2 linked regions of the Homo sapiens genome follow. The protein of the gene in region 2 binds, or shares a complex with, the protein of the main gene of each other region. Each region holds a gene or a part of one and is shown on either strand. Other genes may lie near its edges. A codon is read from its position in the direction of its gene.

Region 1 (7,030 bases), on a different chromosome or scaffold from region 2:
ACCTATAGATGCTTTTGGATTCAGTAATTTAAATGACCCTCCCATTATTTCTGTCAAATAGTATAATTACTTCATATCACTTATAACTATATGACAAATTACTATGCGGTAACGTGATAGCTTTTTTTAAGCAAACAAATCTAAAGTTACATATTTAATGATGATACCTTCAAATCTGTCACCTTGGGAGGCTACCTACTTATTCTAATGTTGCCTGTCTTTTCAAATATTTTTGAAAGACTTTTGGAATTGCTTTCAGATCCTGTGGCATAATGCTTTCTGGCATACCATTATTCTTTGATGGTACAGTTGATTTGTAAATGATCAGAAATCTTTCTGGAACCAAATTCAATTACTAACATAGGTTTACCAAACTACTGCTTTGTATCCGGAAGGATATGGATCTACATTGTTAGCCTTCTTGTTTGGCCCTGATAACAATTCCAGGCTGGGTGTGGTGGTTCACGCCTGTAATCCCAGCACTTTGGGAGGCTGAGGTGGGCGGATCACTTGAGGTCAGGAGTCCCAGACTAGCCTGGCCAACATGGCGAAACCCCGTCTCTACTAAAAATACAAAAATTAGCTGGGCGTGGTGGCAGACACCTGTAATCCCAGCTGCTCAGAAGCTGAGGCAGGAGAATCGCTTGAACCGGGGAGGCCGAGGTTGCAGTGCACCAAGATTGTGCCATTGCACTCCAGCCTGGGCGACAAGAGCAAAACTCCGTATTTAAAAAAAAAAAAAAAAAAAAAATCTAAAGAAGAGTTCTAAAAATATTTCTAACCAACGACTTGGAATATATATAAAGTTCTGAGTTCTAGCCTGCTTATTGGGAGGAAAAAAACTAAGTTTCATTACTTTATATTCATGCTTCTTTAGTCAAATAGCCACTATCCATTTTATAATAGAACCTTTCAGTATTTAACACAGATACACCATTTAATAATTAAGACTTCTCTATATCCCTTGGCTTTAAATATAGGAAATTTTTATATTTAAAATCAAAATATATACTCCTTCACATAGTACACAGTGATATATTTTATTTGGGAGGCTATTTCATATCTAACTAACCTAACCAACAAATATTAACCATTAGTTGATGTTTAAAGCAAAGTGGAATGCTATTTAATTTTTTTAGATAGGCCTAAAACAATTTTACCTTTTTTATGAAGATGACAAATTATCCAGAACTGTCTCATATTGGCTTCTTTAACAAAATACAAATCAATCACTGTGTCTTCGGTTTAGTCAAACTGCCTTCTACCCAAAATCTGTAAGAGGCTTCAATCCCCACTAACTAGGGAAAACTCAATCTAGAAAGCACAGATCAGGCAACTTGAAGCTGTCTAAACTTTCTATCATCTATGTCTCAAATCTACTGATAAGAGAGATCCTGCCACAGAAGAAGCTGGGATTGTAAATGCTTCAGGTAAGTGAATGGGGGACTCAGCTTACAGTGACAGTCAAATATAGGCAGAAAGAGGGTAAAGGGAGAACTGCTCAATAAGAGGGTGGGAAGGTAGAGAAAAAAATTCAGTGATCACTGGTATAGACTATAAATATTTTTGTTACAAGGCTTTCTTTTGGCCTCTCTTCTAACCCATAACTGAGTGAAATAAAGCATATACACAATATACACCACATATGCTAAACAGGTTTAAAAGATATTAAAGGTTGAAAACTTCATTTAAAAACAATTACTTTTAAAGATAAAAACCAATATTATAAAGGGGTCATACTGCTGCTATTAAATCTTATGTACAATAATATTTATTGAGCACTGTGTACCAGATACTGTGTTTAGTATATTATTTCATTCAATCCTCACAGCATTCCCCAAAATGAAGTATTGATATATTCTGTTACAGATAAGGAAATTGAGGCTTAGATGCCAAAAGTTCTGCTACAATCAGATTTTAAACCTAAAGCCTATGAATTAATGGGACTGAGTATTCATTTTACATTTATCTACAGAAATATTAGACTAACTTGTAGTATTCCGAGGCAGTTTCAAATTCACCAAGAAATATATATGCATTTCCAAGGTTGCTATATGCTCTTCTTTCAGCTGCTTTATCTCCAAATTCTTTTGCAATAAGGAGACGCTGAAACAAACAATTTTAATTAGATGTAGATAAAATAAAACTGAAGAATGATCTAATCACTGTTCAGAACTTTGATGGAGGAAATGATCTGGCTCCAAGGCTTTCCACTGTACCTGCTCATGAGCTATAACTGCATCCCTGAAGTTGCCAAGGAGGTAATGTGTGTTTCCAAGATTTCCAAAGGCACGTCCTTGTGCCGCTCGGTCACCCAAAGCAGTCACTAATGATAGGTTTTCCCTAAGGGATCGCAAAAAGTGATGAAAAAATAAGTTTGCAGAACAATTTTATGTATGTGATTTACATATCTAATTCTTTTTATCAGAAAAAAATGTAGGGAAGCTTACAGCCATAATGTGCAACATTTTAAGGATGACATCTATGATGAAGAGCAATTATAGGAAATAGCTGGGAACACTTTATTAAACTATTCAGATAGGTTTCTGCCCAGGGTCAAGCACAGAGTTAATCTTGGAACCCCTATAGTTAAGTAGTTCTATGAAATTCTATTGGTAAAAGACTAAATTACTCTAAATAACAGACCAACCATTGACATTTCTTGCTTTTGCCACTAAGTGGCACTGGTCTGCAACTTAAATGAAAGCTGCAGATTACTACTAATATAACACTGTAACATTTAAGCAACTGAATTGATGATTTTGCTAGTTCATAACTTTAAAATCTTTGCCAAACTTAAAAACTTACTACTGAATAAAGAACGTACAGCAGATCCACGGCTTAGATGGGCCTACATGACTGCCCATATCAGCCCCTACTCACTCATAAAAATCCACGGCTGCCTGCAGAGCATCTCTCACTTCTTCTGGAAATTCTCCTACATCCTGGGGACCAGGGCAACCAAAACTTTTCCCTTTGGCATGATACACATTCCCAAGATTGTAAAGTGCTCTTGCTTCTCCCACCTAAATGAAGACATCAGCAAAGTTTACATTTTGAAAACAGAGGTCAGGTTTATCATATATATTTGTAATATCCTTAGTATTACGGACAAGGGAAAAAAATTTTTATATTGGCTCTCCATACAGAACCAATCAAATAATTACTTATGAAAGACCTCTTACTATTTCCTTCTTTTTCTCCATTAAATTTTTTTTCTTTTACTTCTATTAGTCTATAAATGTTTTCTTTTTTGGTATTAATTTTAAAATAAACTATAGAATAATTAAATAGTATTAAAATGCAAAGCCCTTTGAATGAAAATATTAGGCCTACCATCTAATGCTGCGGTATTACCTTGTCATTAAGCTCTCTGGAAATATCTAGGTGTCGCTGACAACAAACTATGGCTTCGTCAAAATTCCCAAGAACTTTTAAGGTGTTTCCCAGATTACCACTAGCTTTCGCTTCCCCCAGCTGGTCTCCAATAGTCCTGAAAAAAACAAAAAACAAAAAACAAAAAACCAAATGGTATTAAAATACAAATGGTGTTAAAATATAAAGTAGCCAGAGTACAGTTTTCCAAGAGGACAAACTGACATGCTTAAGGTAAGAAAAACCCATTGGCTTTGAAACCTACTTTAAATAAATATTTAAAACTTACATTTCTGGATTTGAATGTAATTAGTTTTCATCCATTTAATTAAACTCTAGGGTCAATTCACTACTATTCATTCAATTAAACTGTGTTCAGCCTAAAGGTTAGTTTTGAAAAGCGATGTTACTGAAGTAGAACTCATTAAATGTATTAAGTTAGTTTTTGTTAATTGAATAGAAATATTTTTTAAAGTAATAGCTAATTTCAGAAGGAAGAATATTTAAAAGCTTAAATTAATTACCTTGCAAGGGTTAAATCATGATGGTGATATTCTAATGCTTTGGCATAATCATGCAAATAGAAATAAGCATTGCCCAACTGGCTGTAAATAGCGCTAAGTGTTTTTAGGTCTTCAGTTCCAACTTGAACTGCAGCTTCAAAGAATGACACGCCAGCGCGGCAGTCTCCTGATTTACATAGACGTTCCCCTTCCAAGGCCAGCTCTAGGCAAGAAGCTTCCATTCTACAAAATTATACAGGACAGACATTTAAACATAACATTACAGCTGCATCACAGTATTTTTAACTTCCCGTAATATAATTTAAGCGGCTACTCTTGTTCAGGGCAGCTGCCTCTATAACTGAAGTTTATATACATTCCTGATAAAACAGTAAGCAGTTATTTGTAGCAAGAGGTAATTTGCCTATTCGAATTTCTCTGAGCCTGCTCAGAGAGGTCAGGATAGCTAAATATCTTTATGTGGAGCTCATTTTAATTGGCCCAGAGCAATCCACGTTACTAGTGAAAGAGCCTAAAGCAGTATTTCCCAAACAATTCTGAGTTGTAACAGACCTCTGGACTTCCTTAGAGTCTGAGAAGATGAGTATGTAGGAAAGTGAGGCCCTACAATTATTAATATTGTTCTCTACCCAGGTATCCAAGTAATCTAGTCACCTGTTCATCAGCCCCTCTGACCATCCAGCCATCCATCCCTCGCTCTCTCTCTCATACACACACAACACACACTCACTCTCCTTCCTCTTCTTACCACCACATGTCCACTTATACCCTAGAAAAATAGAGGAACAAAATATTCTTGATCTGTAAGACACATTTTCACAAGAGAACTAGGTGTCAAGAAACTAAGTTAGAAAACAATGATTCAAAAATTTGCAGAAATACTAATTTTGAAAGTCTGTCCCTGAATTGAAAAAGAAGGATTAAGTCACTGTAAACATATCTGGGAGAAAAAAACACTGATACTTTGGATTCAAATCCTAAATTTTAGAGGGTGCCCTTCACCAAAGTTGCCATTGTGTTTCTTCAGCATCTTCATGATTTCTGCCATATGTAGGAACTACCTATTCGTTTAATTATTTCTGTAATTTGGCAAATTTCCTTTAAATTGGCACACTATCTTTAACTTATCATTTTAAAAAAATGGAGCTTCATCCAAAGCAGTACTCATGAAACTGTGAATTTGATACGATACTTATATGTATATTCTAATACAACGGTCTCCAATCTTTTTGGCACCAGGGGCCGGTTTTGTGGAAGACAATTTTTCCATGGACGGGTGGCAGGGGATTGTTTTGGGATGATTCAAGTGCATTACATTTATTGTGTACTTTATTCCTCTTGTTACTATACATTCACCATAATGTACAATCAGTGGGAGCCCTGAGCTTGTTTTCCTGCAACTAGATGGTCTCCTCTGGGTGTGACTGGAGACAGTGACAGATCATCAGGCATTAAACTCTCATAAGGAATGTGCAATCTGGATCCCTCGAATGTGCAGTTCACAATAGGGTTTGCACTCCTATGAGAATCTAATGGTACTGCTGATCTGACAGGAGGCGGAGCTCAGGTGAAAATGCTCACTCGTCCTGCCCACCTGCAGCTTACCTCCTAACAGGCTACAACAGTACTGGTCTGTGGCCCAGGGGTTGGGAACCCCGTTCTAATACACATTAAACAAATATGAAATTATTAAAATCTAAAAGTGAGTAAAGTTACCTTATGTACCACCAGTGGCATACATATCACTCTTTGAGAAGCTCTGATTAAGCTCATCAAATGTTTTAATTTTTGGAACAGCATTAAGTTACTCCTTACTAGAATGAGCTTTGAGCCACTCCAATAGAGCAGTTGTTCTTAATGCTGGCTGTACAACAGCAGAGCTCACCTGGAGCACTTTCTAAAACTCCCAACGCTGAACTCCACCCTCTGGGTGATGTCTGGCCACCTGTATTTTTTTAAAGCCCCAGGTAATTCTAAAGTACAAGTTAGGGTTGAGAATCAGTGCTTTTATAAGAAATGTGAATTAAACCACCACCCACCCTAATATCATTCAAATATGATTATACTCTGTATATCTAGTGGTAGATCAATTAACATGTTTTTGTGAGTGCTGTTTTTCAGTCTGCAAAATTTCAAGGGTCCTTAGAGCCATAAATTAAAATGGGATTGTAAAGTAGAAAATGTACCTGATGAAGCTAAAAGCCTGGACAAAGATAAACTGAGCCAATTGTAAAGGTTCAAAGCAGACTTCTGGTTTAGAACAAGCAGATATATGTAGCCAATTCCAATAGGTAATTTTCAAGTTTTCTATCTAGGTATCTTTTTTTTTTTTAAGAATTCAAATGACTTAGCCAATGGCTACTGCTTGCTCATCTTCACTTTTTTTTTGAGACACAGTCTCTCACTGTCACTCAGGCTGGAGTGCAGCAGTACAATCTTGGCTAACTGCAACCTCTGCCTCCTGGGTTCAAGTGATTCTCGTGCCTCAGTCTCCTGAGCAGCTGGGATTACAGTCATGTGCCATCATGCCTGGCTAATTTTTGTAATTTTAGTAGAGACAGGGTTTTGCCATGTTGGCCAGGCTGGTCTCAATCTCCTGACCTCAAGCAATCCACCCATCTTGGCCTCCCAAAGTGCTGGGATTACAGGTGTGAGCCACCATGGCTGGCCCCATCTTCACTTTATGGATCTATGCAAAATAATGCAGGTAAACCTCCAACATTTTGCTACAATATTAGACTACAAGCCAATTAGATACAGGAGAGAAGATCTAAAATACATAGTAAGATAAGCAGTTAAATCAGAAACCTTAAACAGCTATATTTATGTTTCTTTATATGTCACTTCACAATTAATAAAGCCTATTTTTGCCTTCCAAAAATGAAAACTGCCCTTTAGAATTGTATTTCTGAAAATGAGATATTTCATAAAAGAAAAAATTGAGTATATCTGTTTAAGATTTTATGAAGTTATTGTCATATTCTATGTATAAAGATAAATAAATCAACAAAAGATATATAAAAATGTAATTTTTTTTTTCTTGAGATGGAGTCTCACTCTGTCACCCAGGCTGGAGCGCAATGGCTCACTGCAACCTCCGCCTCCTGGGTTCAAGCAATTCTTCTGCCTCA
Region 2 (5,209 bases):
GGCTGCTTGACCTCATCTGCTTGTAGTAAGGATGGGAAATGGTCACTTTCAAAAAGGGCTGGACAAAATGCCTTCTAGCGTGAAGGACTGTACCTCAGCAGGTTTCCTTTCCATAGCAAGCTGCCTCGTACCCAGCCAGACGGCACCAGCGTCCCTGGAGAACCAGCCTCACCTATCTCCCAGCGCCTGCCCCCCAAGGTAGAATCCCTGGAGAGTCTCTACTTCACTCCCATCCCTGCTCGGAGTCAGGCCCCCCTGGAGAGCAGCCTGGACTCCCTGGGAGACGTCTTCCTGGACTCGGGTCGTAAGACCCGCTCCGCTCGTCGGCGCACCACGCAGATCATCAACATCACCATGACCAAGGTCAGGCTGCTGGGACAGGGGCTGCAGGGCAGCAATTCCCACTTCCTCTCAAGGGCATCTTTGCACTGGGCACTCAGTCAGGAGCAGGGAGGGATGAGCAGCCAGTCCATGTTACAGTGGGAAAGCTGAGAGGTCTTAAAAAGGGCAGTGACTTGGTTAAGGGCACTTCTGAAGAAAAAGGCAGGGCTAGGATTAGATCCCTGCCTCCTGACTAAGGCTAGCATTCTCTCCATGCGTAGCACTGAGCCTGTGCAGGGTGAAGGGAGAGAACGTGGCGAAGCTGCAGCCCATCCTGTGCCTCCCAGCATGCCCCATGCAGCTGAGAGGCATTGTTGCTGCCCAGTGGACTGCCTGACAGGCTACAGGCCCTTGCCTTTGTTTCCACATCTTGAAGGGGAGGTTTGGGAGGAGGGGAGAGGGGCCCCTGGTACAGCAGGGGGGACCTGTGTGTTTAGGGTGCCCCCTGCTACCAAGAAGTTGGGGAAGTTCTGGAACATGGTAAGGGCCCTGGAAGTTTGGACTGAGGGACAGCAGAGGCTGTGGGATGAGCCTGACTAGTCAGGAGACATGGGGCCTAGCCCCAGCTCTGATACTTCCTAGCAGTGTGATTTGGGGCTAGTCACTTTATTTCTTTGCACTTCATCTCCAAAATGGGCCGATAAACACTCTGCATTCCCTACCTCAAAGCATTATGAATAGACTCCATGAAAAAAATGCGTAGAAGAGTCTTGACAACATCAGCACCACCTTGTGAGGGCTTCTGTCGACAAGGCCCATTTCTTGCAGACACACACTTTAAGGACCTTTGCAAAGCAGTTGGGAATACATGGATGTGCCGTGGGATCTGAGGGCTTCGGAAGGGAATGGGAAGCTTCTGTACAGTGCCAGGGACTGTACACTGCAACAGATTCACTCTGTCTTCCAGAAGCTAGATGTGGAAGAGCCAGACAGCGCCAACTCATCGTTCTACAGCACGCGGTCTGCTCCTGCTTCCCAGGCTAGCCTGCGAGCCACCTCCTCTACTCAGTCTCTAGCTCGCCTGGGTTCTCCCGATTATGGCAACTCAGCCCTGCTCAGCTTGCCTGGCTACCGCCCCACCACTCGCAGTTCTGCTCGTCGTTCCCAGGCCGGGGTGTCCAGTGGGGCCCCTCCAGGTGAGGGGACTACAGGGACTTACTATACCCCAAAATTAGACTGGAAGGTGGATCGTGGCACAGGGAAAAGAGGAAAGCTTTTTAAAAATCCAAGGCTGGCCTCCTTGCTACCATCCAGCTCCACCTGCCCCTCCTTCCTGCAGCCTCAGGGCCTTCCTTACCTGCCCATCTAGGGGCTGGCTGTGTTGGGGGCACTCTTAGCCAGAGTTAAGGGCCCGGGATTCCCAGCACAATTGTGACACTTAGCTGTGGGGAGTCCTCCATGCCCTTCTCAGGCGGTGATGGGCTGCTGGAAAGGCCAGGCTGGCCAGACTCTTCTTGGAAGCTCTTGTCCTTTGGGCACCAGGGAGCCCCTGGGAATTAATTCCCGGTCCTTAATTTGTTCCTCTGGGTGTTGGCCACCAAGCCTTGGCAGGTGAGTAAGATGTAGTAGCAGTCTCTGCGTGTGACCTCTTCTGCCCTCTCCAGGGAGAAGGTGGTGAGCAAGCCCCTAGGATAGAAATAGTCTGTGTGCCGTACTCCTGCACCTGCGGCACTGAATCAGACTGGTGTGCTGGGCTTCAAGTTTATGGGGTAGGTGGCAGCAAAGGCTGGCAAGATGCCAGGGCCAGGAGGTGACCTGCCGACTCCAGGCTCATTTGTTCCCACTTCCCTGCCTTCCACAGGAAGGAACAGCTTCTACATGGGCACTTGCCAGGATGAGCCTGAGCAGCTGGATGACTGGAACCGCATTGCAGAGCTGCAGCAGCGCAATCGAGTGTGCCCCCCACATCTGAAGACCTGCTATCCCCTGGAGTCCAGGGTGAGGCCTGGGGTCACTGTGCAGGGCCTCCCATCCCTGCCCTCCCTTGGAATCCCACCTGCTGATCTAGCCTGAGCACTAGGGCCCTGGATCACTGACTGGCCGAGGAGGGGGAGGGTGACCTTCTCATGTTTCCAGGTGGAACAGACAGCTGGGAGGGCACTCAGGGGTGAAGTCCCTTGGGGTAGGCAGGAGCTCAGAGAGGAATCTGGTCAGGACTGCACTGCTTGTGGCCATTTGCCCAGGGCTTAGGTAGAAAGCAGAACAGGAAAGGAGGCCTTGTGTCTTTCTACCTCGTGAGGCAGGAAGGGTCCCGACCATAAGTGTCGGGCGAGTGTAGAGTTCTGGGACAGCCCCAGGTCCTCCTCCATCTCCATACAGCTATGGTCCACTGACCACCTCTTCCACCCATGCAGCCTTCCCTGAGCCTGGGCACCATCACAGATGAGGAGATGAAAACTGGAGACCCCCAAGAGACCCTGCGCCGAGCCAGCATGCAGCCAATCCAGATAGCCGAGGGCACTGGCATCACCACCCGGCAGCAGCGCAAACGGGTCTCCCTAGAGCCCCACCAGGGCCCTGGAACTCCTGAGGTAGGCGCGGTGGCTCCTGGGTGTTACTCCAGCACTGTGCTCAGGTCAGGCCCAGCTCACCAAGGACTAAAGGGAGCCTTCTCTCTCCTTCCCTCACTTCCCCCTCTCTTTCCCTCTCTCCAAGGGCCTGACCCATGGATGGGAACTGTTGGGAAGGGAAGGATCTGGCCCAGAGTTGGGAAGGGGAGCAGGTTGCACGTTGACTTACAAGGTCCACTCAGCTCTGAGAGGACAAGACACCTGGCTTCAGATGTGACTCCTCTTGCTACTGTCTGCCTAACTGTCCTCTTCTCCATAGTCTAAGAAGGCCACCAGCTGTTTCCCACGCCCCATGACTCCCCGAGACCGACATGAAGGGCGCAAACAGAGCACTACTGAGGCCCAGAAGAAAGCAGCTCCAGCTTCTACTAAACAGGTGAGGCTGGGGCTGAAGGGGGATGAAGCGACGCCCTGGCGGGACCTTGCTGATAGAGCGTGGCACAGCACGCTGGCCTGGGAAGGCAGCATTGGGTCTCCCGGTCTGACAGCCCTTCCTTGCAGGCTGACCGGCGCCAGTCGATGGCCTTCAGCATCCTCAACACACCCAAGAAGCTAGGGAACAGCCTTCTGCGGCGGGGAGCCTCAAAGAAGGCCCTGTCCAAGGCTTCCCCCAACACTCGCAGTGGAACCCGCCGTTCTCCGCGCATTGCCACCACCACAGCCAGCGCCGCCACTGCTGCCGCCATTGGTGCCACCCCTCGAGCCAAGGGCAAGGTAGAGGCACTGGCAGGATGGGGGAGGGAAACCCGATGAGAGCATGGGCACCCCCCAGACCGCCCCACCAAGTAGCATCCAAGATGGGGCCACGCCAGGCTGCTGGAGGGTGTGGGGTAAGAGGTGTCCCTGTCCTGGTAGCTCCTCTCCAAGGAGAGAAGACAGATGGCCCCATTCTCATGGAGAGCACCCAGAGCTGCTCAGGCACAGCCAGCAACTGATAACCCTGGGGCTCACAAGGGAGGGGATCCAGACAGGGGCGTGGGAGCAGGAAGAGATCTTCCCAGCCAGTGGGTGCAGGCTAGTATCGCAAGTTCTCATCTGGCCATGTGACTGTGTCTCTTTCAGGCAAAGCACTAAAGGGCCAGTACCAGTGAGTGGCCCCACCTGTGTCCCCGATGCTGACCTCACCTGGTCCTCCGCCTACTGTCCCTCTCAGTGCCTTCTCTCAGCTCCCAGGCCAACAGTAGCCAAACCCCTAGAGACAGTGATGCCTGCCCGCACCCTGGCCTGGTCCCTGGTCCTTCACTGGCGCCTTCTCGGAGCTGGCCCAGGGGGCCTGGAGCATGGACAGTGTGGGCGCTCTCCCTACCTTGCCTCCTTTTTTCTTAAAGCAAAGTCACTTCTCCATCACAACCAGATTTGAGGCTGGTTTTGATGGCTGGGTCCTTGGGCCTGGCCAGTCTTCCTCTTAGCCTCTGGATCTAGAAGGGACCATAAGAGGAGTAGGCCCTGGTTCCTGCTGTCCTGGTGGCTGGGCCCAGCAGGGGCCCTCACTCTTGAAGTCCAGGACTGGGTCTGACCTGGTGGGAGCACCTGCCAGAGGATGCTCTTTCCCAGGACGGATGGGCCCTATGTCTCAGGAGTGGGGTTGGGGGACAGCCTTCAGCAGCAGCTCACACCCTACCTTCCCCAGACTTGCACTGGGGTGGGATTTGGAGTGATGGGAAGGTTTTTAAGGGCCGGGGATGGATCTTTTCTAAATGTTATTACTTGTAAATAAAGTCTATTTTTCTCCCGTGAGTACTGAGTTGACTTGATCGGTGTGGGAAAAAGAGGAATATAGGCTCTTTGAAGCCTACCTTGTTCCTGCTGAGTCTTCCATACCACCTCCTTTCTCTCATCCCTTTTCCTGAGGCCACATCTTTCCAGGCTCTTCCCACTCTCCATTAGTGGCCTCTGCTCCCGGGGAGCATTATGGGCTGTTCTCTCTTTTCTTTTTCAAGCGCCTGTGTTCCCCTGAAGCAGGTGTTGTCTTCAGCTTCTGTGTGGCAGTCCCTCTCTCCCATACTCCCTCGTGGGACAGGCAAAGTTCCTGGGAGTGGAACTGAAGCCTAAATGAACAGATGTCAGGATGCCTCCATTGAATAATCCTTTATGAGGACCCATGTGGGGATGACACAGATACAGTGTGGATCCGAAGCAGCTGCTGCCCCCATCCCTTCCCTGGAACAGTCCATTAGAGTGAAGGGGGAAAAAAAAAACATACAGCACGAAGATAGGAAGTCTGCAGAATGCGGCCAGAGCTGAAAGAGGATGACTTC

The links. Proteins that work in one complex are often made in the same cells at the same time.
Region 1: the proteins of NUMA1 (region 2) and GPSM2 are in contact, whole or in part, in a crystal structure (PDB 6HC2), measured with the Homo sapiens proteins. Residues at the interface, in NP_006176.2 of Homo sapiens: Ser1901 (codon at 2,191), Phe1902 (codon at 2,194), Tyr1903 (codon at 2,197), Met1904 (codon at 2,200), Gly1905 (codon at 2,203), Thr1906 (codon at 2,206), Cys1907 (codon at 2,209), Gln1908 (codon at 2,212), Asp1909 (codon at 2,215), Glu1910 (codon at 2,218), Pro1911 (codon at 2,221), Glu1912 (codon at 2,224), Leu1914 (codon at 2,230), Asp1916 (codon at 2,236), Trp1917 (codon at 2,239), Asn1918 (codon at 2,242), Arg1919 (codon at 2,245), Ile1920 (codon at 2,248), Ala1921 (codon at 2,251), Leu1923 (codon at 2,257); in NP_001307967.1 of Homo sapiens: Ala28, Leu29, Glu32, Cys35, Lys36, Phe47, Lys59, Thr60, Ser62, Ala63, Ile64, Ser66, Gln67, Asn70, Ala71, Phe73, Asn110, Lys113, Tyr146, His153, Lys157, Pro164, Gln165, Arg203, Gly206, Asn207, Asn210, Tyr213, Leu214, Arg228.

What each region holds. Positions count from the first base shown.
Region 1 is NC_000001.11:108,893,955-108,900,984, reverse strand, and holds part of GPSM2 (G-protein-signaling modulator 2), read right to left. Parts: intron 4,122-7,030; coding exon 3,900-4,121; intron 3,494-3,899; coding exon 3,358-3,493; intron 3,027-3,357; coding exon 2,884-3,026; intron 2,344-2,883; coding exon 2,220-2,343; intron 2,107-2,219; coding exon 1,991-2,106; intron 1-1,990. UniProt on the Homo sapiens protein: Plays an important role in mitotic spindle pole organization via its interaction with NUMA1. Required for cortical dynein-dynactin complex recruitment during metaphase. Plays a role in metaphase spindle orientation.
Region 2 is NC_000011.10:72,002,343-72,007,551, reverse strand, and holds the end of NUMA1 (nuclear mitotic apparatus protein 1), read left to right. Parts: exon of another isoform or gene 1-116; coding exon 117-363; exon of another isoform or gene 364-1,288; coding exon 1,289-1,517; exon of another isoform or gene 1,518-2,007; intron 2,008-2,182; coding exon 2,183-2,319; intron 2,320-2,735; coding exon 2,736-2,912; intron 2,913-3,210; coding exon 3,211-3,327; intron 3,328-3,452; coding exon 3,453-3,665; intron 3,666-4,013; coding exon 4,014-4,025; 3' UTR 4,026-4,688; downstream 4,689-5,209. UniProt on the Homo sapiens protein: Microtubule (MT)-binding protein that plays a role in the formation and maintenance of the spindle poles and the alignement and the segregation of chromosomes during mitotic cell division.